2 separate regions of the Homo sapiens genome follow, and region 2 is linked to region 1. The links come from fine-mapping of genetic effects on plasma protein levels. A gene starts in region 1. The other region holds a variant in brackets. All regions are shown on one strand. Distances are between the middles of the regions. Region 1 holds the start of FADD (Fas associated via death domain). Region 2 overlaps ANO1 (anoctamin 1).

The links. PIP is the chance, under the fine-mapping model, that this variant and not a neighbour inherited with it causes the effect. Protein levels are from antibody-based Olink assays in UK Biobank. Linkage for the fine-mapping came from a reference panel and not from the study's own genotypes, which makes the PIPs less certain.
Region 2: its variant is fine-mapped to the plasma level of the FADD protein (UK Biobank, PIP above 0.99).

What each region holds. Positions count from the first base shown.
Region 1 is chr11:70,195,671-70,211,490 of GRCh38, forward strand. It overlaps FADD (Fas associated via death domain), which reads left to right and starts at 7,626. Exons shown (of 2, transcript NM_003824.4): 1 at 7,626-8,075; 2 at 10,463-11,720. The coding sequence starts at 7,790. The coding sequence ends at 10,803. It overlaps LOC124902705 (a long non-coding RNA gene), which reads right to left. Exons shown (of 3, transcript XR_007062761.1): 2 at 13,480-13,587; 3 at 12,840-12,907. RefSeq lists silencers at 433-727, 8,036-8,115, 8,165-8,356 and an enhancer at 1,061-1,560.
Region 2 is chr11:70,103,499-70,119,318 of GRCh38, forward strand. ANO1 (anoctamin 1) reads left to right here. Exons shown (of 26, transcript NM_018043.7): 4 at 501-652; 5 at 2,236-2,290; 6 at 4,855-4,906; 7 at 8,209-8,264; 8 at 12,960-13,001. Among named protein-coding and RNA genes, the nearest start is that of ANO1, 33 kb to the left of the region's middle. RefSeq lists enhancers at 12,758-13,258, 13,259-13,759. The variant A/G (reference allele first, on the strand shown) is at 8,313.

The DNA of each region.
Region 1 (15,820 bases):
ATTTACTATTGTCCATTTCCCTTCCCTTCTCCCCCTCTTCCTCACACAATTTTCATTAAAGTAAAACATAGAGAAAATTGCACAAAAGTGTACAGTCAAGCAACTTCCACAAAAAAATACACACTTTTGGGGCTGGGCACAGTGGCTCACGCCTGTAACCCCAGCACTTTGGGAGGCTGAGGTGAGAGGAGTGCAGTGGTGCAACCTTGAGTTCAAGAGTTTGAGACCAACCTGGGCAACATGGCAAGACCCTGTCTCTACAAAAAATAAATTTTTTTTAAAAAAAAGCTAAAAATTAGTCAGGTGTTGTGGCATGCACCTGTAGTCCCAGCTACTTGGGAGGCTGAGGTGGGAGGATGGCTTGAGCCTGAGAGATCAAGGCTGCAGTGAGCCGTGATTATGTCACTGTACCCCAACCTGGGCAACAGAGAATTTGTCTCCAAAAACAAAAACAAAATCCCACTTCTGTAGCCAGGACTCAGACACTGAATGAGCACGTCCTAAATATTCCCTCAAACTCCCTTCTCACAGTGGCTGTAGCCACTACCCGGACCTGGTTCCAACCTCGGCAGCAGAAATTCTTTCTCCTGCTTTTGCTTGTTGGTGGCTGCTGCCCTCTTCTGGCTGCCTGCAGGAGCTGCACTCAGGGAAGGGAAAGGCCCCGCACCTGGCACCTACCTTAGTGTTGTTGTGTAGTGTTGTGTTGTGTTGTGTTGTGTTGTGTTGTGTTGTGTTGTGTTGTGTTGTGTTGTGTTGCGTTGTGTTTTTTTGAGATGGAGTCTCGCTCTGTTGCCCAGGCTGGAGTGCAGTGGTGCGATCTTGGCTCACTGCAACCTCCGCCTCCCTGGTTCAAGTGATTCTCCTGCCTCAGCCTCCCGAGTAGCTGGGACTACAGGCACCCGCCACCATGCCTGGCTAATTTTTGCATTTTTAGTAGAGACAGGGTTTCACCATATTGGCCCAGCTGGCCTGGAACTTCTGACCCTGTGATCCGCCCGCCTCGGCCTCCCAAAGTGCCGGGATTACAGGCGTGAGCCACTGCACCCGGCCTTAGTTTTCTATTAGGTTGGTGCAAAACCACGATTAGTTTGCACCAACCTAAAATATTTGCTGTGGTGGCAAATGACCACCAACTCTGCGGCCCAAAACAACACGAATTTATTCTGTTACTACAGGTCAGGTTTCTGGCACAGGCCTCACTAGGCTAAAATCGACGTGCCTGCACAGCTGGCTCCCTCTGGAAGCTCCGGGGGAGGTCCGTGCCTTCTCCAGCATCCAGAGGCCCTTGTCTTCCCGTCTGTGACCCCTTCCTGGCCACGTCTTCGTGCTGCCTCTTCTCTGGTTCTTCTTTTATGAGGCCTCATGATTAGACTGGGTCTGCAGGGTTAAACCAAGAAAACCAAGACGATCTCCCCATCTCAAAGTTCTTAATCTTCATGGCTTTTTTTTTTTTTTTTTGAGACGGGGTTTCACTCTTGTCACCTAGGCTGGAGTGCAATGGCACAGTCTCGGCTCACTGCAACCTCTACCTCTCAGGTTCAAGGGATTCTCCTGCCTCAGCCTCCCAAGTAGCTGGGATTTTTGTATTTTAGTAGAGATGGGGTTTCATCACATTGGCCAGGCTGATCTTGAACTCCTGACCTCAGGTGATCCGCCCACCTCGGCCTCCCAAATTGCTGAGATTACAGGTGTGAGCCACTGTGCCCGGCCTCTTCATGGCATCTTAAAGTCTCTTTTGCCATGCTGACGAACATAGCTGCAGGTCTGCGCATCAGGGTGAGGGCCGGCAGGGATGTGGACATTTGGGGTATTCTGCCTACCACAGAGCCCTGCCCCTCAGGAAGCAGTCTCTTTTTTTGGAAAAAACACTACCCCCAAGGAGAGCCAAGGATGCCCACATATTTAGAATAGCCTTGGACATTAATGACATTATTCTAAATATGCCCACATATTTAGAATAGCCTTGGACATTAATGACAAAGACCAAAATGGGCCAGGTGCAGTGGCTCACGCCTGTAATCCCAACACTTTGGGAGGCTGAGGCGGGTGGATCACGAGGTCAGGAGATCAAGACCATTCTGGCTAACAAGGTGAAACCCCATCTCTACTAAAAAATACAAAAAAAACAAAAAATAGCCGGGCGTGATGGCAGGCTCCTGTAGTCCCTGCTACTCGGGAGGCTGAGGCAGGAGAATGGTGTGAACCGGGGAGGCGGAGCCTGCAGTGAGCTGAGTTCGCACCTCTGCACTCCAGCCTGGGTGACAGAGCGAGACTCCGTCTCAAAAAAAAATAAAATAAAATAAAAAAAGGCCAGGCGTGGTGGCTCACGCCTGTAATCCCAGCATTTGGGAGGCCAAGGCGGGCGGATCACCTGAGGTCAGGAGTTAGAGACCAGCCCAGCCAACATGGTGAAACCCCATCTATACTAAAAATACAAAAATTAGCTGGGCATGGTGGCACACACCTGTAGTCCCAGCTACTCAGGAGGCTGAGGCAGGAGAATTGCTTGAACCCGGGAGACAGAGGTTGCAGTGAACCGAGATCACGCCACTGCACTTCAGCCTGGGCAACAGAGCGAGACTCCATCTCAAAAAAAATAAAAAAGAAAAAAAATATATATATATATATAAAATAATAAATAAAATAAAATTCATATAGCAAGACAGAGGCCCTCGAATAGCTAAAAGAATCTTGACAAAGCAAAATACAATGGGAGAAATTGCTGTAGCCAGTATTAAGGTTTACTATATAGCTACACTAATCAAGAAAAGGTCATATGGTGCTTTTTCAGCCTCCCTCACTGGCTTCCCCACATCTCCCAGCCCCTTAAAGGTGGACACCCCTAGGCTCATCTGTTGGTCATCTTTATTCTTTTTCTTTTTTCTGAGACGTGGTCTCACTCTGTCACCCAGGCTGGAGTGCAGCGGCATGATCACAGCTCACTGCAGCCTCAACCTACTGGGCTCAAGCGATCCTCCCACCTCAGCCTCCCCAGTAGTTGAGACTACAGGCGTGTGGCACCACGCCCAGCTAATTTTTTAAATTTTTTGTAGAGATGAAGTCTTACTGCATTGCCCAGGCTGGTCTCAAACTCCTGAGCTCAAGTGATCCTCCCATCTTGGCATCCCAAAGTGCTGAGATTACAGGGGTGAGCCATTGAGCCCAGTTGGTCATCCAGTCACCTTTTCTATCCCTCTTCATAGGTGACTGCACTCTTTTGGTTTTTTCAACACAATCTATCTGCAGGCAACTCTCAAATTCACCTCTTCTCCCTGTCATCTCATGCCCCTCACTGACCAGTCAACATCTCCACCAAAACATCTAATAGGTATCTGTATTAGCTTTCTGTTGCTTATAGCAGAATACATGAAACTGAATAATTTACAAAGAAAAGAAATTTCTTTCTTTTTTTTTTTTTTTTTTTTTTGAGACAGGTTCTCACTCTGTCACCCAGCCTGGAGTGCAGTGGCTCGATCTCAGCTCACTGCAACCTCTGCCTCCCAGACTCAAATGATCATCCCACCTCAGCCTCCAGAGTATCTGTGACTACAGGTGCATACGCGGCTAATTTTTTTCTGTATTTTTTTGTAGAGATGGGGTTTCACCATGTCGCCTGAGCTGGACTTGAACTCCTTAGCTCAAGCTATCCACCCTCCTTGGCCTCCCAAAGTGCTGGGATTACAGGTGTGAGTCCCTGCACCTGGCCCAGAAATTTCTTTCTTATAGTTATGGAGTCAGAGAAGTCCAAGGTCAAGGGTCCACTTTCGGGGAGGGTCTTCCTGCTGGCGGGGGCTCTCTGTGGAGTCTGCAGAGTTTTGAGGCGATGCAGGGTATCACGTGATGAGGGAGCTTAGTGTGATCCTCCCCCATAATAACTCATCAGTCCATTAACCCATTAATGGAGGAGACAAACATTCAAACCATAGCAGCATCTCACACACACATCCCAAGCCAATCTCGGTCCTCCCTCAAGCCCACCCCACCCGCACCTTCCCGGTTTCCATCAATGGATGGACCAGCCTTCAAAGTTTACAGGGTATCCTGCATTCTCTAGTTTATGCGCATCCCCAATCTAAAGAAGGCTGCCCTCTCTCACCACCTCCACTGCTACCTGCCCTCTGGTCTGAGTGCACTGCCTTTCATTCGGATTATTGTAGTCCCCTGGCTTCTAACCAGCAACCAGCGTGATCTTTAAAAATGTAACTCGAGGTATGAGAATCGCTTGAACCTGGGAGGCGGAGGTTGCAGTGAACTGAGATCTCGCCACTGCGCTCCAGCCTGGGTGACAGAATGAGACTCCATCTCAGAAAAAAAAAAAAAAAAAGAAAAAAAGAAAAAAAGCTGGGCACGCTGGCTCATACCTGTAATCCCAGAACTTTGGGAGATCAAGGCAGGCAGATCACCTGAGGTCAGGAGTTCCAGACCAGCCTGGCCAATATGGTGAAACCGTGTCTCTGCTAAACATACACAATGCAGGAGATTGGTCAAGGTGGTAGGAGAAATTATAAAGATAAAGTTATAGGAAATAGACACAAACTTTCTTGGAAGGCCGGAAGGTTTGCATAGCTTCAGTAAAAGATTTGGCTGAAGGTAGCTGAATTCTCTTAAAAGTTTAGGGCGTAGATACATAGGAATGTAGAGGAGTTTATCTAAATAGCTTGTTCACTCATGTTGTCCTAAAACAGACCTTTGATCATTCACGGGCAGGACTACTCTCTCTGAGGGAGGGCAACCAGATTAATTACCCACAAATGTGTTGACTCAAAGCCTTTGTCATTAAGTCTGTGCTGAATAAATGCCTGCAGGACCAGCTAGTCAGGCCGCGGGGCTGGAACAACTCTTTTTGTGAAAGGTCCAGCCCCCTAGCCAGCTCTTTCACTGAATACTGGTGTCTGAGTACATTATTCATCTGTAGTGCAGCCCAGGTCTGTGGGTCAGACCCTGGCAAGTTAGCCGGATGTGGTGACACATGCCTGTGATCCCAGCTACTCGGGAGGCTGAGGCACGAGAATCTCCTGAACCCAGGAGGCAGAGGTTGCAGTGAGCCAAGATCGTGCCACTGCACTCCAGTCTGGGGCAACACAGTGAGACCCCATCTCAAAAAAAAAATGTAACTCAAGACCAGACACGGTGGTCACACCTGAAATTCCAGCACTTTGAGAGGCTGAGGCTAGTGGATCACTTGAGCCCAGGAGCTCAAGACCAGCCTGGGGAATATGGCAAAATCCTGTTTCTACAAAAAAAAAAAAAAAAAATGAAAATTAGCCAGGGGTGGTGGTATGTACCTGTAATCCCAACTACTCAGGAGGCTGAAATGGGAGGATCGCTTGAGCCCAGGAGGCTGCAGTGAGCTATGACTGTGCCACTGCACTCTAGCCTGGGTGACAAAGCAAGACCCTGTCTCAATAAATAAATAAACAAAATAAAACTGTAACTCAGTGTTCATAGCAGCATTATTCACAACAGCCAAAAAGTGGAAGCAAAGGCAATGTCCATCCTCCGATGAATGGATAGACACACTGTGGCACCCAAACACCCAGACAGTGGAATAGTATGCATCCATAAAAAGGAAGGAGGCTGGGCACAGTGGCTCACGCCTGTAATCCCAACACTTTGGGAGGGTGAGGCAAGAGGATCACTTGAGGCCAGGAGTTTGAGACCAGGCTGGCCAACATGGCAAAGCCCTGTCTCTACTAAAAATACAAAAATTAGCCTGGCATAGTGGCACACACCTACAATCCCAGCTAGTCAGGAGGCTAAGGCACAAGAAACGAGAGTCGCTTGAGCCCGGGAGGCAGAGGCTGCAATGAGCCGAGATTGTGCCACTGCACTCCAGCCTGGACAAAAGAGTGACACTCTGTCTCAAAGAAAAAAAAGGAATGAAGTACTCATATGTTCTACATCATGGATGAACCTTGAAAATGATGCTGAAAACAGCCAGACACAAAATGCCACATACTGTATGGTTCTGTACACATGGAATGTCCAGAATTGGCAAATCCATAGATTTTAAAAAGTAGATTCGGCAGGGCACAGTGGCTCACGCCTGTAATCCCAGCACTTTGGGAGGCTGAGGCTCACTTGAGGTCAGGAGTTCAAGACCAGCCTGGCCAACATGGTGAAACCCTGTCTCTACTAAAATACAAAAATTAGCTAGGCATGGTGGCAGGCACCTGTAATCCCAGCTACTCAGGAGACTGAAGCAGGAGAATTGTTTGAACCCGGGAGGTAAAGGTTGCAGTGAGCCCAGATCGCACCACTGCACTCCAGCCTGGCCATAGAGCGAGACTCTGTCTCAAAACAGCAAAAAAAAAAAAAAAAAGAAAGAAAGAAAAAAAAAGTAGATTCGTGGTTGGTGGGGGAGGGGAGGAGTACATGCTAATGGGTTTCTTCTTGGGGTGATGAAAATGTCCTAAAGTTAGACAGCAGTAAGGGTTGCACAACCTTGTGACTACACTAAAAACCACTGAAGTATAACTTTAAAAGGGTGAATTGAATGGTATGTGAATTATATCTCAAGAAAACAAACTCAGCTGGCATCAGCCCCTGCCCCACCCTGTGGTAAAGCTGGGTCCTTGTTGGCTGGTGAGGGCTCTCCTAATCTGCACCCCCTCCTCACCTCCAGACCCACGGCATTGCTGCTCCTGGAACCCCAGCCGTCCCCTGTGCTCTGCTCTTCTGTTCTCCGTGTGCCCAGCTCTTCCCCCCACACCTAGGTACCCGGCCCCTCCCAGCCTTCACCTGCGCCTTTACAGAGGCCCCATCAGACCACCGGGCCCCCCACCCTCCACACGCCCACCCCGTGAAGAGACTCCCTTTCCCCTGGCTCTTCTGAATTTCTGGCATACTATACGATTTCCTTATTTTTCCTTATTTTTATTTTTTAATAGAGACGGGGTCTCACTATGTTACCCAGGCTGGTCTCGAACCCCTTGTCTCAATCAATCCTGCCTCAGCCTCCCAAAGTGCGGGCATTGCAGGCTGAGCCACCACGGCCGCCACGACCTTCTCTTCTGGAGCGTGTCGCTTTTGTAATTATGATGTAAACTCCGGGCACGCGGGGACCCTCGCGCTTCGCTCACTAATTTGTCCCCAGACCCTACTACCTGGCACAGTAGGCGCTCAATACTGTTGATTGAATAAACGACTGCTACTTTGGAAATCATGTATTATTTAAATCACATGTTTAAACGCACATAAACTTCTGAGTAGTGTTTTCTGCACACACAAGATGTCTCCAGGGGCACCAAAGAATGCATTTTCCACGTTTGTCCCTAAACGTTAATGCATAAGTAACCTTGGTCACCAACAGATGTGAGGGCACGTGACGTTCGGGCTGCGCCCTCCCCGCCCCGGCCCTGCACACAGTAGGGCCGCACCGCGCTTTGCAAACAGGTGGACTCGGCAGAGGCGCGACCGCCCTCACCGCAGAGAGCTGGGCCACCTGCAGGCTCTCAGGACACCCAAGGCCCCACCTCCCACCCGGAAAAGAGACGATACGCCGGGCGCAGGCGCAGAAGCCGCGCCCGTCCGCGGCGCCGCCAGCCAGGGCGGAAACGGCTGCGGCTTCGCTAGGGACGCATGCGCGGGTCCCTTAGTTTTCGCGAGATAACGGTCGAAAACGCGCTCTTGTCGATTTCCTGTAGTGAATCAGGCACCGGAGTGCAGGTTCGGGGGTGGAATCCTTGGGCCGCTGGGCAAGCGGCGAGACCTGGCCAGGGCCAGCGAGCCGAGGACAGAGGGCGCACGGAGGGCCGGGCCGCAGCCCCGGCCGCTTGCAGACCCCGCCATGGACCCGTTCCTGGTGCTGCTGCACTCGGTGTCGTCCAGCCTGTCGAGCAGCGAGCTGACCGAGCTCAAGTTCCTATGCCTCGGGCGCGTGGGCAAGCGCAAGCTGGAGCGCGTGCAGAGCGGCCTAGACCTCTTCTCCATGCTGCTGGAGCAGAACGACCTGGAGCCCGGGCACACCGAGCTCCTGCGCGAGCTGCTCGCCTCCCTGCGGCGCCACGACCTGCTGCGGCGCGTCGACGACTTCGAGGCGGGGGCGGCGGCCGGGGCCGCGCCTGGGGAAGAAGGTGGGCGCGGGGCCGGGCCGGGGGAGCCAGGGCCTGGTCGCCCGGCTGTAGGTGCTGCGAGGCTCCTCCGGTTGGCCTCCAGGCGCCTCCCCTTTGCCGGGTTTGATTTGCGTGGGTTTTCTCCGTACAGCCCTGGTTTTGCAGATGGGAGAGCCAGAAACGCAGAAAAGTTAACTTATTCGAGGTTGCAGGGCGTGGACACGCACAGTCCTTTTTCCTCCACCCACTTCTGCCCGGGTAAATTAGAAAACTCACTGAAGAAAAGATGAGTCAGAGAAGGTGTGGGGGAGGGGCAGAGGTTGGGTGAGCCTGCCTCGCATCATTTCCTTTCTGTCTCGGAATATGCTTTTCACGGCTGTCTGAGAGTAATACTAGCATTCAGTAACTCCTACCCAGGGGCTTACAGTGTGCCGCTTACCCTTGTAACTGCCAAATACAATTTTCGCAGTAGCCCTGTGGCTTAGATACTGTTAGCTATCACTGTTCCCATTTTACAGAGGACAGGACTGTGGCTCACAGGTTAAGTGGCTTTGTCGAAATGCGCAGCCGATAACTGACGGAGCTAGGCTTGAGCCAAGCAGTCCGGCCTCCGGATGGGTAGTGTTAGCCACTACACTGCCTCTCTGGTCAAGTTCATTGTGGAGTGGCTTCCTGTCCTGCTCTCGGTCACTCCCTCTCCACCCTCGCCTGTGGATTGCAGCAGCTTCCAGGATAAAAAAGAAACCCTGAGTACAGCAGAGTTTCTCAGCCCTACCCCCCTTGTTCTCAGAGTCGGGAGAGGCTTGGGAGTGCTCTGGGGACGCCTCTCAGAGGCTTCAAGCTGTAGCTTGGAATCAGCCATTCAGTCACCAATCAGATAGGGCCTAAATGTGTCACCATGGGTTTCACTCTGTAAAGACTGGTGCCTGTTGGGGACAGGATGGACAGAACAGCTCTCTGCCTGAGAGCAGTCAAGTCCAGATTTTAAAAAAAATCAGTACTGAACAAACAAAACAGGACGTAGAAAAATCGGGTTTTATGGATATTTAATGTCTGGAAAAACACTGATAAATTGCATTTTAAAGGCGGTCTACGAAACATAGCTGACATTTGAGATGTATGTGTGCTTGGTTTTATTTATATCGTCATGTAGTTACTGTGTGCTGGGAAAAGTACACCAGAAGGTGAGCGGTGGGTATGGACAGGTTGGTAGCGGGCGACTCTGCCTTCCTCCCCAGAAGTTCAGCATAGCGGTTAAGGGTCGACTCTGGCACCACACTCTTAGGGTTTCAGAACATGGCTCTGCCATCGTCTAGCTACACGATCTCAGGAATGTCCATTAGCTTCCCTGTGCCTCAATTTCCTCATCTGTACAGTCATGGTAACACAGTGCCCAGCCCACAGGGCTGTCAGAGCTGCGGGAGCTGGTACACCTGCCAACGGTGTCTCAGAATTGCCAGTAGTCCAAGCAGCACCCTGTCCTGCCTCTCCTTTCCTCTCTTCACATTCCAGAAGCGGCCTTTTATGGTCTTGTGACCAGCTCCCTGATCTCAGTGGTGACGTCAGCAGATGAGGAGTATGGTAGCCAGGGACTGAAGACTGGTGGTCACTCGGGGCAGCTTTCTAAATAACAATTGGAGTGCCTACTAGTTTCCTGTGATTGCCATAACAAATGATCACAAATCTGGTGGCCTGAAGCAATAGAAATCTACCCCCTCAATCTGGAGGCCAGAAATCTGAATAAGCAGGGTGCCACAGACCGGCACACCCTCGGAATGCTGTTGGGGAGGCTCCTTCCGGGTCTCGTCCGCTTTGTGGTGGCTCCAGGCATTCTTTGACTTGTGGCCGCTTCACTCCAGGCTCACACGGCCTTCCCTGTGTGTCTCCTGCAAGGATACCTATCATTGGTGCATCCAGGTCATCCAGGATGATCTCCTCTCAAGACCCTCAGCTTACCTTTGCAAAGATGCTTTTTCCAAAGAACATTCATGGTTTCAGCAATTTCACGTGAACATACCTTGGGGTGACATCGTTCAGCCTGCTGTAGGGCAGGATGTGGGATCAACCCTATTTTCTTCCCTCCCACAACTCCCCAGCCCCTCCCTCAGTGTCTCCTGCTCTAAGTAGGTAGCTCCACTACAACTTCCTTTGGCACTTGAGTCTTCAGTGGGCCACGCCTCCTAGGACAGTATTAGAGAGCAGGGGGTTTGGCTGAGGTGGAATCAGGCCACTCTTGGGCATTTGGTGCAGCCCCTTTGCTGCCAGGCGACTCTAGCCTCTACAGAGGACCTCGTGTAGGCACCTCTGTCCACTCAGCACTTGGCGTCTGTGCTGAAAAGCCCTAGGGAGGATTGTGGGGTCGCTTGTCTCCAAACCTATGGTAAACCGTTCTGTTCTTTCCTTCCCAGACCTGTGTGCAGCATTTAACGTCATATGTGATAATGTGGGGAAAGATTGGAGAAGGCTGGCTCGTCAGCTCAAAGTCTCAGACACCAAGATCGACAGCATCGAGGACAGATACCCCCGCAACCTGACAGAGCGTGTGCGGGAGTCACTGAGAATCTGGAAGAACACAGAGAAGGAGAACGCAACAGTGGCCCACCTGGTGGGGGCTCTCAGGTCCTGCCAGATGAACCTGGTGGCTGACCTGGTACAAGAGGTTCAGCAGGCCCGTGACCTCCAGAACAGGAGTGGGGCCATGTCCCCGATGTCATGGAACTCAGACGCATCTACCTCCGAAGCGTCCTGATGGGCCGCTGCTTTGCGCTGGTGGACCACAGGCATCTACACAGCCTGGACTTTGGTTCTCTCCAGGAAGGTAGCCCAGCACTGTGAAGACCCAGCAGGAAGCCAGGCTGAGTGAGCCACAGACCACCTGCTTCTGAACTCAAGCTGCGTTTATTAATGCCTCTCCCGCACCAGGCCGGGCTTGGGCCCTGCACAGATATTTCCATTTCTTCCTCACTATGACACTGAGCAAGATCTTGTCTCCACTAAATGAGCTCCTGCGGGAGTAGTTGGAAAGTTGGAACCGTGTCCAGCACAGAAGGAATCTGTGCAGATGAGCAGTCACACTGTTACTCCACAGCGGAGGAGACCAGCTCAGAGGCCCAGGAATCGGAGCGAAGCAGAGAGGTGGAGAACTGGGATTTGAACCCCCGCCATCCTTCACCAGAGCCCATGCTCAACCACTGTGGCGTTCTGCTGCCCCTGCAGTTGGCAGAAAGGATGTTTTGTCCCATTTCCTTGGAGGCCACCGGGACAGACCTGGACACTAGGGTCAGGCGGGGTGCTGTGGTGGGGAGAGGCATGGCTGGGGTGGGGGTGGGGAGACCTGGTTGGCCGTGGTCCAGCTCTTGGCCCCTGTGTGAGTTGAGTCTCCTCTCTGAGACTGCTAAGTAGGGGCAGTGATGGTTGCCAGGACGAATTGAGATAATATCTGTGAGGTGCTGATGAGTGATTGACACACAGCACTCTCTAAATCTTCCTTGTGAGGATTATGGGTCCTGCAATTCTACAGTTTCTTACTGTTTTGTATCAAAATCACTATCTTTCTGATAACAGAATTGCCAAGGCAGCGGGATCTCGTATCTTTAAAAAGCAGTCCTCTTATTCCTAAGGTAATCCTATTAAAACACAGCTTTACAACTTCCATACTACAAAAAATTTTCTATTCCTGTTGGTGGTTCTTTCATTTTGGATATGCTGGATATTCCCAGTACAGCCAGTTTGAGGATCCCTGTCAAGGGCTCCAACCTGGGAGGGGTGGCTGGATTTCCTGACAGCTCGCTAGCTGCTCATGAGCAGTGTCTGCCCTTAGCAAACAGTGGTCTGCTAGGGTAGCTTTTGCCGCTCTTAGAATTTGCCTGCACCACCAACAGTATCAGAATCAAAGCCAAGTGGCTATTCTCTGTCCCAGTTCACCAGCTATGACCTTGGGAAAGTCCAGTGTGCCGTCCCATAGGTGGGATCTTAGCCAAGGCCGCAGGACACTGTCCCCAGTAAGCCGTGGACCCCGGCCTTTAAGCCCCTCCACACCTTCACCTGACGCTTCCAGGTGCCAGACTCCTTGCTAGGAGCAAAGGCCATAGGAGTGAATGGGACAGAAGTGTAGCCCTGCCCTGTTGGCCTCAGAAACCTAGCAGAAACAAGCTTTAACCAGTTCATCACTAGCTTGGGGTGCTGCCGTGGCGCTGAGCTGGTTGCTATCCCAAAACAGCGTGGCCTGACCTACACACTGTACACCCCCGACCCGGCGCATGCCTGCTCTCAAGGCGCAGGTCAGGGTGAGTTCTATAGAGAATAGACACATCGCCCCTCACTGTCCCTAAGTGTGAGCAGCTTGGCTTTGGGGAAGAGATTTTCTTGGGGTGCGTGGGAAAGTATTCTTTTTTTTTTTTTTTTTTGAGATGGAGTCTCACTCTGTTGCCCAGGCTGGAGTACAGTGGCATGATCTCGGCTCACTGCGACTTCCACCTCCCAGGTTGAAAGGATTCTCCTGCCTCAGCCTCCCAAGTAGCTGCGACTACAGATGTGCACTACCAAGCCTGGCTAGTTTTTTGTAGTTTTAGTAGAGACAGGGTTTTACCATCTTGGCCCGGCTGATCTGGAACTCCTGACCTCAGGTGATCCACCTGCCTCGGCCTCCCAAAGTGCTGGGATTACATAGGCGTGAGCCACCGCGCCCGGCCTTGGACATGGATTTCTTAAAGCAACTTGAAAAAACAAATTCTATGTTCATTTTTTTTACAATCAGGTAGAATTTGTGTTTCTGGAAAAGGTACGCACAAATCTTGGGCTTACTTGAAAGCTGGAGGTAACAGCCGTCTCTTGCTCTCTGACTCCTTTTTCCCCTAAGACAGAAGAGGGAAGACAAGTCCAAACGTCTGTGCTTTGCGGGAGACTTCAGGGGAATTTGATCAAGCGTTTCCTGGAACAAAGGGTCAACCCTCTGGTCTTCAGGTTCCCGCAGCCTCCCAGCTGCCTGCCCTTCTGCCTTCTGTTACACAGTGCCCCCTCCACGCCACACTCACACTCGCTCCCAGATTCTCACAGCCACCCCTCTCCAGGACTCACTCCCTGGTGCTCCTGAGACCACACCCCACACAAACTATTCTTGCTGAAGTCACAGGCTGCTGCAGCATTTTTGTTCTACCTGAATCTCTAGGGCCTCTGACACCTTCCGTGACCATTCTCTCCAGGAGCTCTTCTCCCTCTCCGCTGTCCTCCTCTCAGGTCCCTCACACCCTCCCCCAGCCTCAGCCTCACCCCTCCTCTAGGGAGCACAGCCCTTTCTTAGCCTCACCCATCCTAGGTCCCTGGTACCTGCCAGGTATCTCTAGCCCAGATCTTTCTCTTGCCCCAGACCCCAACTGCCTAGGGGCAGCCTCACAGTGGCTGCTATAGCAAACTACCACGTACTTACCGCCTTAAGCGGCACAAGTTTATCTTATGGTTCTGGAGGTCAGAGGTCCAAAATGTCTCTCCCTGGTCTACAAATCAGGTGTCAGCAAGCTGGTTCCTCCCGGAAGACCTAGAAGAGAATCCGTGTCTTGCCTTTTGCATCTTCTAGAGGCTGCCTGCATTCTTTAACTCATGGCCCCTCCCTCCATCTTCAGGCCCACAGATGAGCATCTTCCCATCTCTCTGACTGATTCTCCTGCCTCCCTCTTACAAAAACTCTAGTGACTACACTGGGCCACCTGGATAACCCAGGATCCTCTTCCCATCTCAACATCAATTTAAACACATCTGCAGAATTTCTTTGCCAGGTAGGGGAACATATTCACAGATCCCAGGGATTAGCACATGGGCACTGTCAGAGTCATGCAAGCCACACCCCAAATTCAGCCTCCCTGCAACCTGCGCCCCGTTCCGTGCCTGACACCACCATCTAGTCAGTAGCCCAAGCCACAAACCCTCCTTCCTCTCCCCACTGTCACTCTTCCCTCAATTAAAACTGGGCGCTAGGCCAGGTGCAGTGGCTCTCATCTGTAATCCCTGCACTTTGGGAGGCTGAGGTGGGAGGATTACTTGAACCCAGGAGTTTGAGGCCAGCCTCGCCAACATAGGGAAACCTCATCTCTAAAAAAAATAAAAATAAAAAAAATGTAGCTGGATGTGGTTGTGTACACCTGTGCTCCCAGCTACTCGGGAGACTGAGGCAAGAGGATTGCTTGAGCCCAGGAGGATGAGGCTGCGGTGAGCCATGATCACACCACTGCAATCCAGCCTGGGTAACAGAGCAAGACCCTGTCTCAAAAAAAAATAAAAGTAAGCACCAGGTCCTATACTTTGTAACTCACAAGTGTCTCTCCCATCCACCTCTTCTGCTACCTGCCGCCACCCCCACTCCCAGTGGGGCCTCAGCCCTTTCCACTGGACAACCACAGTGAGTGACCTCGCAATTCATCTTCCGCCTCTGCCCCGCCTTCCACCCATCCAGCCCATCTCCCATCAGCAGCCAGAAATAAACTGAGTCATAACACAGTCCCCTGACTCTTCTTAGAAGCCACGAACTCTGTCCATATTTTTTTGTTTTATATTTTTATTCCCGTGATAATTAATCTGAGTCATCTTGCTGACTGCTTTCTAGCCACACAAATCCTGTGTGAATTGCATTTGGAATCAGACAGGCAAACATGACGTGGGGTAGCATGTGCTCATGCCAGAGTGACCCGTCCCCCAGTGTCTGCTGAGATAAAGGCAAGACTTCTCTTTTACAGGGAAATTTGCAATTGAAAGATACTTCCATCAAAGAAGCTCTTAGTTTCTTGAATCATTTACTAAGTTGAGACCCCGTGGCAAGAATCATGGATGCCAACCCCAGTAATGGTCACCAAGGAACAGAGGCCAATTCAATGCATGAATGGGGTCCTCATGGAAAGCCAAATGACATATGATTTAAGTTTTTGAGGTGTGGCTCAAATAGAAAAAGAATATCGTGGACCATTTGAGTCACCCCCAGGCACATGGCAAGTACAAGGCCTTCCAAACTCCCACGCCTCCTTGATGACAGTCTGTAGACATGAAGCTACAATTTTGTTTCAGCAAAACAGCATCATACATACTGTTTAATGATTAAACAGAATGCACTTCTGTTTGGAATGAATTAAAAATGCTGAGCCCGGCACAGTCGTTCACGCCTGTAATCTCAGCACTTTGGGAGGCTGAGGTGGGAGATCTCTTGAAGCCAAGAGTTCAAAAGCCTGGGCTGCAAAGCAAGACTCCATCTCTAAAATATAATAATAATAATAAATAAATTAGGCCGGTGTGGTGGCTCATGCCTGTAATCTGAGCATTTTGGGAGGCCAAGGCGTGCAGATCACATGAGGTCACTAGTTCAAGAACAGCCTGGCCAACATGGTGAAATCCCATCTCTACTAAAAATACAAAATTAGCTAGGTGTGTTGGTACATGCCTGTAGACCCAGCTAATCAGGAGGTTGGGGCAGAAGAATTGCTTGAACCTGGGATGGGGAGGTTGCAGTGAGCTGAGAACACGCCACTGCACTCCAGCCTGGGCAACAGAACAAAACTCTTTCTCAAAATAAAATTTAAAAAAAATAAAATAAATTAGCTGGCCACAGTGGTATATTCCTGTAGTTCCAGCTACTTGGGAGGCAGGAGGATCACTAGAGCCCAGGAGTTCAGGGCTATAGTGAGCCATCGTTGCGCCACTGCACTCCAGCCTGGGCAGCAGAGCAAGACCCTGTCTCAAAAAACAGAGGAAAGAAAAGAAAGGAAAAAATAGTAATCATACCTGAC
Region 2 (15,820 bases), 92 kb before region 1:
CTTTCGTGTTTGTGGCATCTCAGCTAATTTATCAGATTCATTTTAATTACATTTTCTGGCTTACGGGGATTTTTCTTTTTAATCTGTGAAAACTTTGTATCTAAAAAGCAGTTTGACAGTGTGTTCCCAGAAGCTTAGCTTGGAGTCGGTATTTACTCTGGCAGGCGGACGGGTGAAGCCGGGCTAGGTAGTAAATCAGCCTCCTGCTTCTCGCGTCCTCAGAGACCACTTGGATTACCTCTTTTGAAGCAAAAGTAAAGTTTAGCGGGGAAGTTCTCTGGAATGCATTGTAATTGTGCTTTTGGCTGGGCGCTCCTGAAACTCTGGGCTTTCATGGCGTGGGCGGGGTGGGGCGGTGCATTCTGGCCCACCCAGGTGCTCTGCTCTCAGGACGCCCCGTTGCATGGGGTGGGATGGTTCTCTGACCATCCGAGAACAGATTCCACGGATCATGGTCCAGCAGGGTGACGCAGCTCCCCGGTCCCTTGTCTTATCTGCAGATGTACCACATTAATGAGACCCGTGGCCTCCTGAAAAAAATCAACTCTGTGCTCCAGAAAATCACAGATCCCATCCAGCCCAAAGTGGCTGAGCACAGGCCCCAGACCATGAAGAGACTCTCCTATCCCTTCTCCCGGGAGAAGCAGCATCTGTAAGTGGGGACCCCCAGCCTGCTCCCCAAAGGGTCCTGTGTGTGGGGATTTAACCTTCTAGCATGAGAAATGCAGATTGATTATCTGTCCCCCAAAGAAGAGCGTGTTCTTGTAAGAGCTTTGTGGTTGCTGAGCCCAGAAGAGGCTGTGGAAATGATTTCTAAGATCACCGTTAACTGATGAGTTAGGGGGACACAGCATCTTGTTCTGCTTGGTGACGCAGGAAAAACTTCTTTGGCCTGAGTGAGGACCCCAAAGCAGTGGTCTAGACATGCCTTCCCACCCGCTCCGCACCCCTGCCCCGCCACCCCATCCCCCTCCAGTGTCTGGCCAACCAGGCCTCCTGCAGCCCAGGCAGCCTTGAGCCCCAGTAAGTCTCACTCCTTGTGGCAGAAATTGAAAAGCATCCCCAGGCAGGAGGCCTGAGGCCCCAGGGACTCACCGCCAGCTGGCTTGCCTGGCAGGGCCACGTCTATTCTGGAAACTTCCCTCCTCCCGAGGGGCAGTGGGGCGTAGCCACCTGGGTCAGCAGTGACTGCAAGGCCTCTGCTGGCCTCACTGGGCGGAGCTGGAGTGTGAGCAGAGGTGGGAATAGAAAGCTTGAGTCATGGGAACCCAGAGGGACTTTGGATGGAAGCTCTGGCGGGCAGGAGGGCTCCTGGACAGTGCTGGCCTCACAGGGTCGGGGGCATGGAAAAGCAGACAGGGAGGACGAACAGGTGCCTCAGCTCACAGGGGCCCTTGCTTATAAATGTAGTAGGGGTGGAGCCATGAGCATCACTGGATGCATTTACCAGGTCCTGATTCCTAGAGCGGACAGGACATGCCACCAGAGAGAAGGAAGCAACCCCCAAGCCCAGCCCTCTCCTCCAGATCCAGAACAGGGGCTTGGGGCATTAGAGGAAACCGCCCTCCTTCCAGGACCCCCGCCGACCTCCCTCGTCTCTGCCCTGGGTCGACTCTGTCAGCCCTGCTGCCTGGACAGGGCTAAGCTCACCTCCAGGCTCCGTGGAGGTGGAAACTGGCCCAGCCGCCCTCCCCAGCTCTCCCCGAAGTGCCTTGGAGAGCAGGGAGAGCAGGGAGTGTGTTCCCAAGATGCCCCTCCACCCTCAGGAAGCCTCGGGCCATCCCTATGCAGCCCATCAGGACCCAAACCATTGGAAATACAGGGAGATTGTTTTCAAGGTTGGAGCTGTCTGATGGTGGCGGTGATACTGCCCCTGTCCCCCGCCTTGTTGAAACAGAGACTTTCAAAACTGCCCACTGAGGATGTCATCAAAAGGAAGCAGGGATCTTCTGGGGGGCTGTGGGGGGTGGGGGGCTGGAGGGTGGTCTGACCGTACTCGCCTCCTAGGTCACTTCCCACCTATGTGGGTCTCAGGCCTCGCCCAGGTGCGGGGGCAGTGAAACAGTCTGTTCCAAATGCCCAGGGGCGGACGGGTCATACCTGGCGTGCGGACAGAGTTCTGTCCATTTCACGGTCACGGCTAATGGGGACAGTGTGGTTTCCCAGGGCCTTGAAACCCAGAGAACTGCCAGCTCTGGTGAACTGTGTCTTGTTTCCTTCCCGATATTTCCACAGATTTGACTTGTCTGATAAGGATTCCTTTTTCGACAGCAAAACCCGGAGCACGATTGTAAGTATCGCACGCGCCTGGAAACGGCTCACTGGCAAGATGGCCCTGGGGATCCAGATGATAATTTCATTTTGGTGAAACTCCTCCCGGTGGAAGCCGGCTCTAATTGTCTGTGACAGAAATAATTAGAATAATGAAAGGGAGAGGGCAACGAGGGGCCCAGGGGATGGTCGTGCCCCAGGCAGGGGCAGCTGAGAGGAAGGGAATCAGCACAGAGCTTGGGAAAGCAGGAGGGAAGCCAGACCCCTGGAGTGATTTCAAAGGTCGGTGTTTCTGGATCTGTGCAGCTCCCAGCACATGTCTCAGAGCCGCCTCGTGGTGGGATTGTGCGTGCCTGACCATCAGGCCACGATTCGGGGCTTTCAGGGCAGGCAGGTGTGGGCAGGAGGGAGGGTTGGTGGAGGCAAAGGCGCGTGGGTTGAGATCTCTTTCCAGGCCTTTGCCAGAGGAGCCAACTGAGGTTTGAAATCTGACCAGGCCACCCTGCCCTATTCAAGGCACTGGCTTCATGTTTATCCAACCTGTCCACCAGCCAAGCTGGGGCTGTGCATGGCTCAGGACCCAACTTCTATCTAAACAAGAAATTAACCTGGCAGCCAAACTTTCGCTGTTATTCTCTATTCCCTGCCCAGAAAGCCCAGCCTGGCCGGGCAGAGACAGAGGGCTGGGAGGAGACAGTCAGGGTGACCTTGTCCAGACAACTACTCCTCATGACCACCACCTGAGACTGGCAGGCAGCCAGCAGGAGGTCGGTGCAGGTCGTACCAGCACGGGGGGTTCTGAGCCACTGCTGGGACAGACAGATCTGGGGCAGGGAGGAGGGCATCTCTCTCCCAGAGACCCTGGAGGCCAGTTTCTAAATGGCCAACATGCTCCAAAGAAACTGATAATTCATAGCTTTGGCCTTGGTTAGTCAGGCCTAATAGTCATCAAAATCCAACAGCCTGCAGGGTTGGCTGAGGTTCTAGGCAAAGCCGTGGAGAACTGACAGCCCTTCCCCACTCCTCTCCTCCACACCATTCAATCTGTCCTGGCATTGGGGTGGTCCAGTGTGCAAGTGGATAGGAGTCAGAGAACAGCAGTACTCGATAGGGAGAGGCCCACTGTGCTGGTCTTGGATTTTAGACCTTTGGCCTGTGGGCGCTGGGGAGCCATAGAAGGTTGTGGAGCTAGGTTGAGGATGTGGTGAGATCCGTTCCAGAAGGATCACTGCCAGTGGCCAGCTGTGGGAGGGTAAATGACTGGTGGATGAGGGCTGGTGGCAGTGGTCATAAACATGGGCCATAACTGCATGTGGAAGGGAGGAGGTGGTTACAGGAGAATCAGCAAGGTCAGAACCGATTAGATCTGAGGGATGATGGGGAGGGAGCCATTGAGAACAGCCTAGTGGGCGATTCCTTCCTTCATTCAGCAGGGATGTATTGGGCACCTGCTGGGTGGGAGAAAAGAGGCACTGAGGACATTTATAATCCGGCAGGTGGGGAGAGGCAAGCTGAGCTAGAAGACAGAGCCACCGGGAGGGTGGTGGCCTCAAGGCCTGGTTGTTAAGGGGACCCTGGACCTATTCCAATCTGAAGGGGACAAGTGCTTCTGGGAAAAGGAACAGCCAGGGCGGAGGCCCTGTGGCTGCAGGAGTGAGTTTGGAAAGTGAGAGAGGCAGCCAGGGGGCGGGGTTGTTGGGACAGGTGGGTCCAGTGGAGGCGGCGGGGCGGGGAAGCGGTCAGATGGCCTGGGCCAGGGGGAACTGGAAGGACGCTGGCCTTGCCTGAGAGAGTGGAGGCAGAATTGGCATGCTCTGAAATGCACGTCTGCATAGCACGACCAGTTCTTCTCACCCCAGTTTACAGATGGAAAAACTGAGGCCGGGAGTGGTGATGTCGCTGGTCCAAAATCACACAGCTGCAAATGGCAGAGCTGGCGCCAGGTTCCAGGCAGACAGACTCCCAAGCCGGAGCTGCTGAGGCCACCAAACAAAACACGTCACTAGTCAAGGGGCAGGCAGCCGGGGGGGAATCCCTTCAGCAGGGCTCTGCCCAGGCACCAGGAACCCAGAGCCCGATGATGGCCGCCTCCTGCCACCGTGGGGAATGGATCCCAAGGCCCGCCCCACCACCACCACCCCTGATCCCCCAGAGTCCTAGAACATTCAGGGCTGTGTCCCAGAGTGGTGCTGTTCCAACTCAGCTCTCAGCACGAGGGGACCGTAAATCCACCAGGCAGGGTACGTGGCACAGCTGTGACACAGGACACCAGCACTAGGCCCAGGAGGGCACGGCAGTGCTTTGCTGGGGCCAACTGCCATGACTCCCACGTTGGGAGGTGAAAGATGGGAACTGCAGGTGCACCTGTTTCTCCCTGAGAAGCTCAAGCCTTTGACAGTGTTGAGAATCCGGAGCTGGGTCAACCCTCCCTGAATAAATGCCATTGTCTTTCCTTGGAAGATAGCACCAAGGAGGTCTTCATGCGTAACGTGTGACCAGGTCCTCTCCAGCCACAGCAGACTGTTTCTGCTCGTGGAAGGTGCCTTAAGTAACTGCTCACCCCCCTTCTTGTCTCTGCAATAGGTCTATGAGATCTTGAAGAGAACGACGTGTACAAAGGCCAAGTACAGCATGGGTAAGCACGTTTTTGGGGCTTGAGATCAGCATTGGTTTCCAAGTCGGAATCTCACCTCCGAGTCATCTCTGTGGGAGGCAGGCAGCCGGCTTGGGGTGTTTAAGAGGGTTTTGATTTAAGCCTGTGTAACAGTTCCAGACAAGAGGGCTGGGTTGGGAGCGTGCAGGGCAGTTTTATGGCCCAGCACTTTTAAACACAAATGTATCCTTCACTTTGGCCTGAGGGGTTTGTGAGCGTGTGGACAGGCTCTCCCTGCACGGGTGGTAAATCCAGGCTGGAAACAGACCAGTGTTAGGGATGACCGGGGGATTCCTGGCCCTCTCTTGACCCTCACGGTCCAGTGGGAAGTAATTGGGGTTCCAGCCGGGGCGGCATCTCCATGTGGCTGTTCCGGACCCTTAAAAGCACAGCTGGGCTTGCTGAAAGCAGCGCCCCCTGACCAGGCACCACCAGGTACAGACAGCCTAATTCCGGAAGCTGCCACAAAACCATCCTGACCAGGCTTTCTGGGTACCAGTTTCCAGAACCCCTTAAGCCGTAGATACAAAATCTTCCCAATTAAATTGTGTAGCTGGGAACCACCCCCCACAGTGGGTCCCTTGCCCACAGCTGCAGGCAGTTTGTGAAAGCCAGAACATTGCAGAGCAAAGGAATGCCATTTCCAGCCTTTCCTCCCCTCCTTCTTGAGCTGTCTTATGACCTGCTGAGAGCCGTGCCATAGGGTAGCATCCATCACTCTGTAGAAGCCTCTGAAAGGATGAGGCCATGGCTCCCGGGGGACACAGCAGGTCTGGTGAAAGCTGGAGTCTGTGCATACAGGAGGGACCATCTTGCTGCCTTGGCTTCCCGTGGTGGCAGGAATGCTGTGGGAAGTAAAATGAAGAGCAGTGGGAGTCAAGGGCTCGGAACTGGAATTCCTGAGGTCAGGCCCGGGAGACAGAGAGAAGACGAACCCTCGACAGCTCTGGTGGCTGCTTGGCCCCAGACCATATGGCCTGTGTTCACTCACAGGGATACCCTTGCAGGCCTGAAGTCTCTAAGTCCATGTCCTAAGGCAAGGGGAGTGTGGAGGAGTCCCATCCAGGGTCAAAAGGACTGAGATCCTCTAGAATGGCCAAGCCCTAGTACACACGACTGCAGTGAGGTCAGGCGGAAAGGAAGGTGACGTTGGGAGTTTGGGTTTTTGAAATTGCTCCTCTAGGTCACCGCTGCCAGGGCACAGCCTTGGAAAGGTAACTAGAGGTAAGGAGGAGGCATGGTTCTGGTCCCAGGGCCGGGTCTTGGACCTCGGTTTCCCCCCTGGGTCCCTGCAGCGTTCCTTCCAGTAGAAACGTGTATGGTTGCAATAGAAGTCCAGCGTCTTCAGGCTGCATGGCCCAGGCTGATTCTCTGCTCGGGTGGTCCCTGGGGACACAGGGTCTCTGTGTTCCCACCGGTTTTGTGGCGGGGCTGGTTCCCTGCACCTGGTGACGGGGCAGATAGATGCGGGTCCTCCTCTTCAGCCCTGCTTCACCATGACACCTTGTCTGAGAGTCGACCCACCTCTAAATTCATCCGCAAGTGCTGAGGATTCCCGTCACCTGCCAAGTTGTGTCCCATAGTCTTGCAGGATGAGCAGGGTGGGGCTAGCTGCGGGATTTAGGAACTGTGATGAGAGAAGGCCTTCCAGATGGAGGGAGTGGCACATGCAAAGGCCCTGCGGCAGGCAGCACCAGGTTAGCAGCATTCCAGCAACAGGAAGGAGGCCAGCGAGCCTGGCTGAGGGCCTATGTTCACTTTCTTTTTTTTTTTTTTTTTTTTTAGACAGAGTGTTGCTCTGTCACCCAGGCTATAGTGCAATGGCACAATCTCAACTCACTGCAACCTCTGCCTCCTGGGTTTAAGCAATTCTCCTGCCTCAGCCTCCCGAGTAGCTGGGACTACAGGCGCCCGCCACCACGCCTGGCTAATTGTTTGTATTTTTAGTAGAGACGGGGTTTCACTGTGTTAGCCAGGATAGTCTCGATCTCTTGACCTCGTGATCCACCTGCCTCAACCCCCCAAAGTGCTGGGATTACAGGCGTGAGCCACTGTGCCGGGCCCCCATGTTCACTTTCTATTGCAGACAAACTTTTCACTCACACATGTGGCTTAAGCCCCTTCCTCTGGTTTTGACTTCTAAGCATCCCTTAGTCCCCTGATCATTCCAGGTCATTGACCACAGAGATGGCCCATTTTCAAGGGGATTTCGGGAGGTCATTTTCCCGCCGCTATCAGGTGGAGTCTCAGAGGGTGGTCCGCCCAGGCTGCTGTGAAAAACTTAACGCTCTTACTGCCTAGGAAGCCTCTTCAGCCAAGCAGGGGGTTCCATGAGCAGCAAAGGGCCCCATGGAAACGCCCCCGCCTGGCTGGGCCCCCACGATGTATTTGGAGCAAGATCTGATTTCCAGGAAACCCTTCCCCACACATGGCCCTGGCTTTCCGGTCCTCTCTCGCAGTCTCCTGGGGCTGGGCGCCCGCATGCGCACCTGTTAGGACACACAGGCATGGTGTTTTTATAATGTGCCCAGTGCAGGCCCTGGGGGCCACGTAAAAAGGGGCCCTGCCAGCATTCCACTGCCTCCAGGAGCACTGGACGGCTGTGAGTCCGCCAGAATCACTGGCCACTGACGCTTGCTGCCCCAAATGTAGCTTTGATCCTGTCAGGCCCTTCCACCTCACTAATAGCCAATGTATAAACAGGGCAAGGCGAGGGAAGAAAGAAGGACTCCGCCCTTCTAAGTAAAAGGCGGAAATGTGGGAAGTATGGTAAGTGTGGGCCTCCTCCGGCTTTCCCAATCAACCTAAAATCTAATTCCAAATTGTATGTGTGTTTTCTGACACCATCAATTTTTCCATCCGTATATTTCCTCATGATTCAGCTTCTCTAACCACTTACAATCCACCTTCCCCATCTGCAGGCTTGCCCTCGGACAGGTGGGGGGAGCCGGTGAATCGGAGGCTTGGGGTGACAGTGAAGCCATGGTCCGCTCACACCGCCTGCCTCTGAGACAGAGCCGCCTCTTGGGGTTTTCTCTGTGTCTTCCTAATTCTGCCAATCGAGCATGTGTTTCGTCATCTCCTAGTTGATAGATCAATAACCCAGCTGCACCCTGTCATTCCTGGGGAAGAAACCCCAGAGGTGGCCGGGCTCTGCGTAGTCAGGTTCGTTTCATTTTGAGAAGCTCTTAGTGGCTGAGATGGCCCTGTGACCGCTGTGACTTTACAATGGGAAGCGGGAGACCCGCCTGCCCCATAACCTTCTCTCTGCCTCTGTTTTTAAGGCATCACGAGCCTGCTGGCCAATGGTGTGTACGCGGCTGCATACCCACTGCACGATGTAAGTAACCTTGACACACGATTTATCTCTGCGTCATTTGACTCCCCA[A/G]ATCCCGCCGGGCCACACCCCCCCGGGAGCTGCAATTATCCTGTGGTCACAGCTTCCTGCTTGGCTCTCGCTGTAAATGTCAACTGTACACAGGCCTTCCCTGTTCCCCGGGTGGGGGCCAAGAAGTTACACACAGGGCCATCTTTTCTTGCAAAACAATCCCACCAAAACGGGGGCACGGGTGGCAGCTGCTCCTGCCTCGACTTCCTCTGAACCTCGTAGCCAGCGGGTCCACAGAATGTCTTTCCTGGCCTGGGCTCCCCTACCCCCAGCTGGCCCGGGGCTCTGGCAGAATGACCAGGGCTCTGTACGTGTCTATTTCTGCAGAGCAAGTGGCCAGCTTCCTGAGCTGAATCTCCAGATCCCACTGGTATCCCTTTGACAAATATAGCCCATGTCAGTGGCTGACTTGGGGTGGAGAGAGAGAGAAGATTGTCTTCTTGTTGTCTCTATGGAAACAGGGACTCAAGTTCAGCAGGGCACTGGGAATGGGCCTCCGGGCCTGAGCAGTGTGGGAATCCCAGACAGAGGAGCTCTGAAACTTTGCAAATGTGCAAAGGCCAGGAGCCAAGAAGCAGGAGAGAAGGGACAGGCCTGGGACTAAGGAGACCCAGATTCCAGTCCCGGCCACTTACCTGCTCCTCCGCCTTGAGTGGTGGAGTCAGCCCCTTGTCTCACTGAGCCTCAGTGTCCCCATCTGTGGGTCAGGAATCATAACTTGTCCTAACTCCTCTTTTCTTTTCTTTTTTTTTTTTTTTTTGAAACAAGACAGAGTCTCGCTCTGTCATCCAGGCTGGAGTGCAATGGCATGATCTCGGCTCACGGCAACCTCCACCTCTTGGGTTCAAGCAATTCTCCAGCCTCAGCCTCCCAAGTAGCTGGGACTTCAGGCGTGCACCGCTACACCCAGCTAATTGTTTGTATTGTTAGTAGAGATGGGGTTTCACCATGTTGGCCAGGCTGGTCTCGAACTCCTGACCTCAAGTGATCCACCCACCTCAGCCTCCCAAAGTGCTGGGATTACAGGCGTGAGCCACCGTGCCCAGCCTAATTCCTCTCTTCTTGAGGAAGAAACAATGGATTAGACAAACTTGAGGTGCAGGGATCCCGCAGGGCAGTTCAGGGGTGTATTCTCCAGACGGTTGACCCCAAGGGAAGGAGTCTAGGCAGATCTGCTGCCCGTCACCTCGTCGCCTCCCTGTCAGGGCCTCCTCCTCACTGTAGGTCCGGGGATTGGGGTGGTTGAGCAGCCCCGCTTCCTCCCTTCGTGCATTCACACATGCTGTTCCTTCTGCTACGGTACTCTTCCCCGCCCCACCCCACCCCAGGCGGACAGAAGCACCCACACCACGCCTGCCTGTTGCCTTCCTCCCCAGGACTAGTGGCTTCTTCCTCCCTTCTCTGGGCCTCAGATGGTCCCTGTCCTGCAAAGACACCACCGTCTGACCACCTTTAGTTATGTGTGTCATCTCAAGGAAGCCCAAGCACTCAGCACTTAATAAGTGCTCAATAAACGTGGTGTTGATTGAGATTGGATTGAGTCGGTTTGCCTCGGCCAGCGACCTGCTGTATGGGGAGGTTTCAAGGGCAGAGTTCAGGCCCCTAGACCAGGGCAGTGGCTCCGGGTTCCTGCCCTGAAGCCCTGAGTCTGGAGGAGCCCACTCCTCCATTCTGTCAGGCTTTCCTCCAGAGGACCCAGCCGGTCTGGTTGTTCTGTCCCACCCTGTGTAGGCTCCGGCTGGGTGCCAGGAAGACAGCCCTGCCTGGCACAGCCCATGATCCCAAGAAGGCAGCCTAGAGCTACATCCATGCTCCTGATTGACCTTTAAGCAGGTAATCCCTGCTGAGAGGCTGAGGCACCGAAGCCAAAATGTTTCCGGCCCTCCCTGCTTGTTTTGAGTTAGCCCTTTAAGTCTTAAAAGGGAAAGGGGAGAAATGAACGTATCTGAGCACCTACTGTGTGCAGAGCCCTCTGTTTAGAAGGAACTGTACCTCATATAACCTGTGCAGACACAGAGACTCAGAAAGGCTTAGTAATTTGCCTGAGGTCACACAGCCCCTTTGGAGGAGCTGGGGCCAAAAGCCGTCCCTAGTGACACTCTGCAACTCCAGTGCCTCGCTGTGTCCCCACCTCATCCCGTCATGGAGGCCAAATGCATCCCTCTTCTTGGCAGCCACTACTGCATTTGTCTTAGGGATTGACTGTCAACAGTTTAAATTGACTGGCGCAAAACTCCCTCATCAGCTGGATCTATTTATTGTCAGAGAGCCAGCCTCACAAGAAGCATCTCCAAGATCCATGCAGACAATCTCCTCTTTCAAAATCTTCATCGTGCCTTATGCAGCCATGTGGGGTCTGTTCCCACCTTAAAGATGGAGAAACAGGCTGGAGGAGCTCAGACCACTTGCCCAGGGGCGCACAGCCCAGAAGGAGTGGAGCTCGGAAGCCCTAGGCTGTGGGTGGCAGGTATCCTTAGGGAATATGGAAGTTTACAGCCACAGATTTTCCATATGACTGAAGGGCGCCCGTGCTGCTAAGTACCAAAGCTGATGTTTAAGCATTTGGGGAGATGACTGGTTCTGGCCTGAGCCGCGTGCACCCATGTCCTTACCCAGAATACTGACTGCAGGGAAGTTCAGGCTGGCCTCGGTGGCCATGGTGAGGCTCTCACTGCATGCAGTGTAGTTCTGGCTTTACATTTTTGCTTCCATCTTCCTCCCCATGAAGCTGTCCTGCATCTTACCCCCTTCCAATCCTGTGCTTACTGCATTCATTCATTCATTCATTCCTCAAGAATATCTGGTCGGTTGGGCACGGTGGCTCACGCCTGCAATCACAGCACTTTGGGAGGCCAAGACGGGTAGATCACCTGAGGTCAGGAGGTTGAAACCAGCCTGACCAACATGGCGAAACCTCATCTCTACTAAAAATACAAAAATTAGCTGGGCATGGTGGCACATGCCTGTAATCCCAGCTACTAGGGAGGCTGAGGCAGGAGAATTGCTTGAACTCGGGAGGCGGATAACAACCTGATAGAGTTGTGTGTGGGTAAGAGTCACATGCTCCAACTGAGACCCTGAGGAAGTCTCCTGGAATCAGAGTGTATCACCCGTACTGAAAGGACTTTGATATTTATGTTGGCTACTTGGCGGCCTTTTGGCTTTCTTCCTGACTAACGAGGTCACCAGCATAAGGACCTCCGTATAAATGAGGTGCTGCTGGGATCGCGTGGCTGTCTCATCCATGGAAAGAAACTGGGAAACACTAAAAGGAGTCAGGCTTGGGTGGGTGAGGATCCCCTGAAGACTTAGGAGGAAATTGGTTAAACTGCTCTCAGAGCGTCTTCGTTCCAAGACCACCTGCATTTGGTTGCTTGCTTGAGTGTGTGGTCAAGTCGTCCCCACCTGGCAGGGGTTAGAAGGGGTCATGGAAGTTGCTGGTGAGGGGAGAGGGCACTGGACAGACCCCCAGGAGCCCCATAGCTTTGTCTGCCTGGATATTCTTAAAACCCATTGGCCAGGCCAGGCGCAGTGGCTCACACCTGTAATCGCAGCACTTTGGGAGGCCGAGGCGAGCGGATCACTTGAGGTCAGGAGTTTGAGACCAGCCTGACCAACGTGGTGAAACCCTGTCTCTACTAAAAATACAAAAATTAGCCGGGTGTGGTGGTGGGCACCCGTAGTCCCGGCTACTTGGGAGGCTGAGGCAGGAGAATCACTTGAACCTGGAAGCGAAGGTTGCAGTGAGCCGAGATCATGCCACTGTACTCCAGCCTGAGCGATAAGAGTGAAACTCCATCTCAAAAACAAAAACAAAATCAAAACAAACAAACAAAAAAAACTATTAGCCAGGCCAGGCCAGCCATGCCCTGAACCTCGACAGGGCCGCTCCCTTGCTGCTCCTCCCCAGTTACTTTTGTCAACTGTAGTTATTTGGGGCTCACTGAATGACAGTTAAGTATCATTTTGAGTGTTTGTGAGGGTAACGTGCACATAGCCATAGGCAGTCTAGACCCATGATGTTCCAAGATGGGCTTTCAACCCTTAGACCCTTCTCTTCCTTTAGGTTTGAAGGTCTGGATCCAAGTCAGGGTCTGACCGAACTTAGGTGTGTGTCCTCAGAAATGTCAGTTTGCTTCTCGGAGCCTCAGTGATTCCATCTGTAGAATGGGAGTTTTGGACTCACTGATTAGATGACAATGACCTTGTCATTTACTGTCCCTCTTGGGATGCTCCACAGTGAGAAGGGAGCAAGACACGGACTGTCCCAGCAGAGTGGGACATATACGCACCCTATTGATACGACTCTTCCTGCCTCCAAAAGCCCCCTTTCATTTGTGTTTCTGGTTCCAAGGACCCGACCGTGGATCCTCTCCTAGAGTCCCCTCTGTGTCGAGGGAAGAGGCGGCTCAGGCCGTCCTGGTGGTGGAGGCCAACAGGGCGGCCAACAGGGACGTGCACGGCCTTTCTATCATAACGGGGGCACACCTGGGCAACCCTCACACTCTGTGTGAAATGTTGCCCCAGGATGATCTTAATTTGTGTCAACGAGAGCTGCTGGGGTTTATGTTTTGAAACATAATGGATGTGAGCGCCTCCAAAGCTCCATTGGATGATAAGAACGTCCCTTTCCTCTTTTTTTAACAGGGAGACTACAACGGTGAAAACGTCGAGTTCAACGACAGAAAAGTAAGTTGATGGAGCGGAGCAGGAGGTGGCTCTGTCAGAGCCTGGAGGCGTTCTGGGGCGGGGTGGGCCTGCAGCTGGACCGAGGACTTACCGGCCTCCAGGGCCTCCCCAGGGCGCTCGCTGCAGGGGGCTGAGAAGCGGGTGTCCCCTCTCACCTTTTCAGGAGAAAAGTCCGTGAGCTTTGTGTGGCTGGTTTGTTTTCCTCTTTCTGATTGTCAAAAATGCCCTTGGCAGGTGACCGTGAGCATGGGAAAGGGAAAGCTGTCCTCCCAGAGCCCACTCCTTGCACGCTGTCCTTCCCTTATCTTCTCGGGACAATCTGAACTGTGCCTGGGCCTCCAGCAGTCCTTGCTGGCATGTGGCCTAATCCCACAGGGCTCCCAGGCAAATAAACTTGGGAACCACTGACACCAGGTGCACAGAGAACAATGGCCCCCAGCAGCGCATTGGGGAAACCTGTTTGATGGTGGTCAATGAAGTGTTTCTCAAATTTACCTGACCTGGAACCCTTTTAATGGAGAAGTTGTTGAGCTAGTGTTCTAGGGAACACACTTTGGGAAACACTGGGTGACCCCTTTATTCTTTTTTCTTTGTTTCTTTCTTTTTTTTTTTTTTTTTTTTTTGAGTTGGAGTCGCACTTTGTCACCCAGGCCCTCTGCCTCCCGGGTTCAAGTGATTCTCCTGACTCAGCCTCCAGAGTAGCTTGGATTACAGGTGCCTGCCAGCAGGCCCAGATGATTTTTGTATTTTTAGTAGAGACGGGCTTTCGCCATGTTGGCCAGGCTGGTCTTGAACTCCTGACCTCAAATGATCCACCCTCCTTAGCCTCCCAAAGTGCTGGGATTACAAGCGTGAGTCACCGCACCCAGCCAGCCCCTTTATTCTTTAGTGGCTGTTGCTAATTTTCCTCACTCCCCAAAGCGTTGGTCCCCACCCTCTACCCCTCACTCTGAGCATGGGAACTCCACCCTTCCCACCCAGGCTCCCCAGGAAGCTCTGCTTCTCTACCATGCCCCCGAAAAGAACATGTCCCCACCACATCCATTTGCTCTTCCCTCCTCTCCCATGGGCCCACACCCGATACCAGCCTTCCCCCCAGGTCTCCACGTCAGCCTCTGTTCCCCAAATGTGCCCAGCTTTCCCTCTCGGGAAGCAGTCCTTCCTGGACCCTGCATGTGCAGCCCTTGCCCTATCTGCTGGTCCTTCCACAGGTGGTGGGTAGAGATGCTTCCCTGACAACCTCACAATAGTGGCCTTGTCCCAATTCCCAGGGGCCAGGACCTCTGTGTATGGAATGTTCTTCATTTCAGCCTCCCCCACAGGCCCCCATACATGTTTTTAAATCTTTGGTACTTGATACAACTTGCCCGCCTGGGAATCCAGATGAAGATGCTATCTAACTTAGCACAAAAATTACATATTTGGTTATTTTTAGTGTAACATCTGGCATCGTCTGGGACCCCATGACTTGCAGAACTCCCGACTCCAATCCTGTTGGAAAAGGACCATCCCCTCCACAGGCCTGTCCTGACCAATTCCAGCCTCAGAGTCCAGCCCCCTTCATCCCTCCGCACCCCTCTGGCACTTGGCAGATGCCTATCCTCCCCCTAAAAATGCTTCTTCCATGGACACCAGTAGTCCCTTTCTAGCCGAATTCAGTTCTCTGGGTCACAGGCCCCTGAACCCTACCCCCTCTTCCCCCTCCTCCCCCTCCTCCATTCTCCAGCCACACTGGCTGCTTTTCTAGTCTCAGGATTGCTTGGCTGATGGTCACGTCAGTGCCAGGACTAGCTCATTCAGTTACTTATTCATTTGAGAAATACCTACTGGGCACTACTCTGTGCCAGGCCCAGCAAACACAATGCGGGTTTGTCCAGGCCCAGCTGTTTACTCTACCTGGAATGATTCCCACTCCCCATGTAATTTTAGGTCCCAGCAGTGGATACAAGGCCTGGCCCATGGGGGTAGTCAAGGAGTAATGAATGACAGTTGGGTGGATGGATGGATTAATGGATGATAGATGGATGGATAGAGATGGAGATGGATAACTGAATGATGGATAATGGATGGATGGATAGATGGATGGATGGATGGATGGATGGATGGATGGATGGATAGATTATGGATGGGTGAATGGGTGGACGGATGAATAGATGATTGATGGGTGGGTGGGTGGGTGGATGGATGGTGGAGAGATGAATGATGGTTGATGGATGAGTGGGTGGATGGATGGGTGAATGAGTGGATGGACAGATGGATGGTTGATGGATGGGTAGGTGTGTGGGTGGATGGATGAATGGATGCTGAAGGGATGAATGGTGGATGATGGGTGGGTGTGTGGATGGGTGGCTGATGGAAGGATGAATGATGGATGATGGGTGGGTGAGCAGGTAGGTGGATGGATGCATGCTGGAGGGATGAATAATCAATGATGGATGGATGGGTGATGGGTGGGTAGGTGGGTGAATGGGTAGATGGATGGATGGATGCTGGAGGAATTAATGATAGATGATGGGTGGGTGGATGGATGATGGAAGGATGAATGATGGATGATGGGTGGGTGAGCGGGTAGGTGAATTGATGGATGCTGGAGGGATGAATAATCAATGATGGATGGATGATGGGTGAGTGGGTGGGTGGATGGATGGATGCTGGAGGAATTAATGATGGATGATGGGTGGGTGGATGGGTGATGGAAGGATGAATGATGGATGATGGGTGGGTGGAGGAATGATGGATGGATGGGTTGATGGATGATGGGGGGGTGGGTGGGTGAGTGGATGGATGCTGGAGGAATTAATGATGGGTGATGGGTGGGT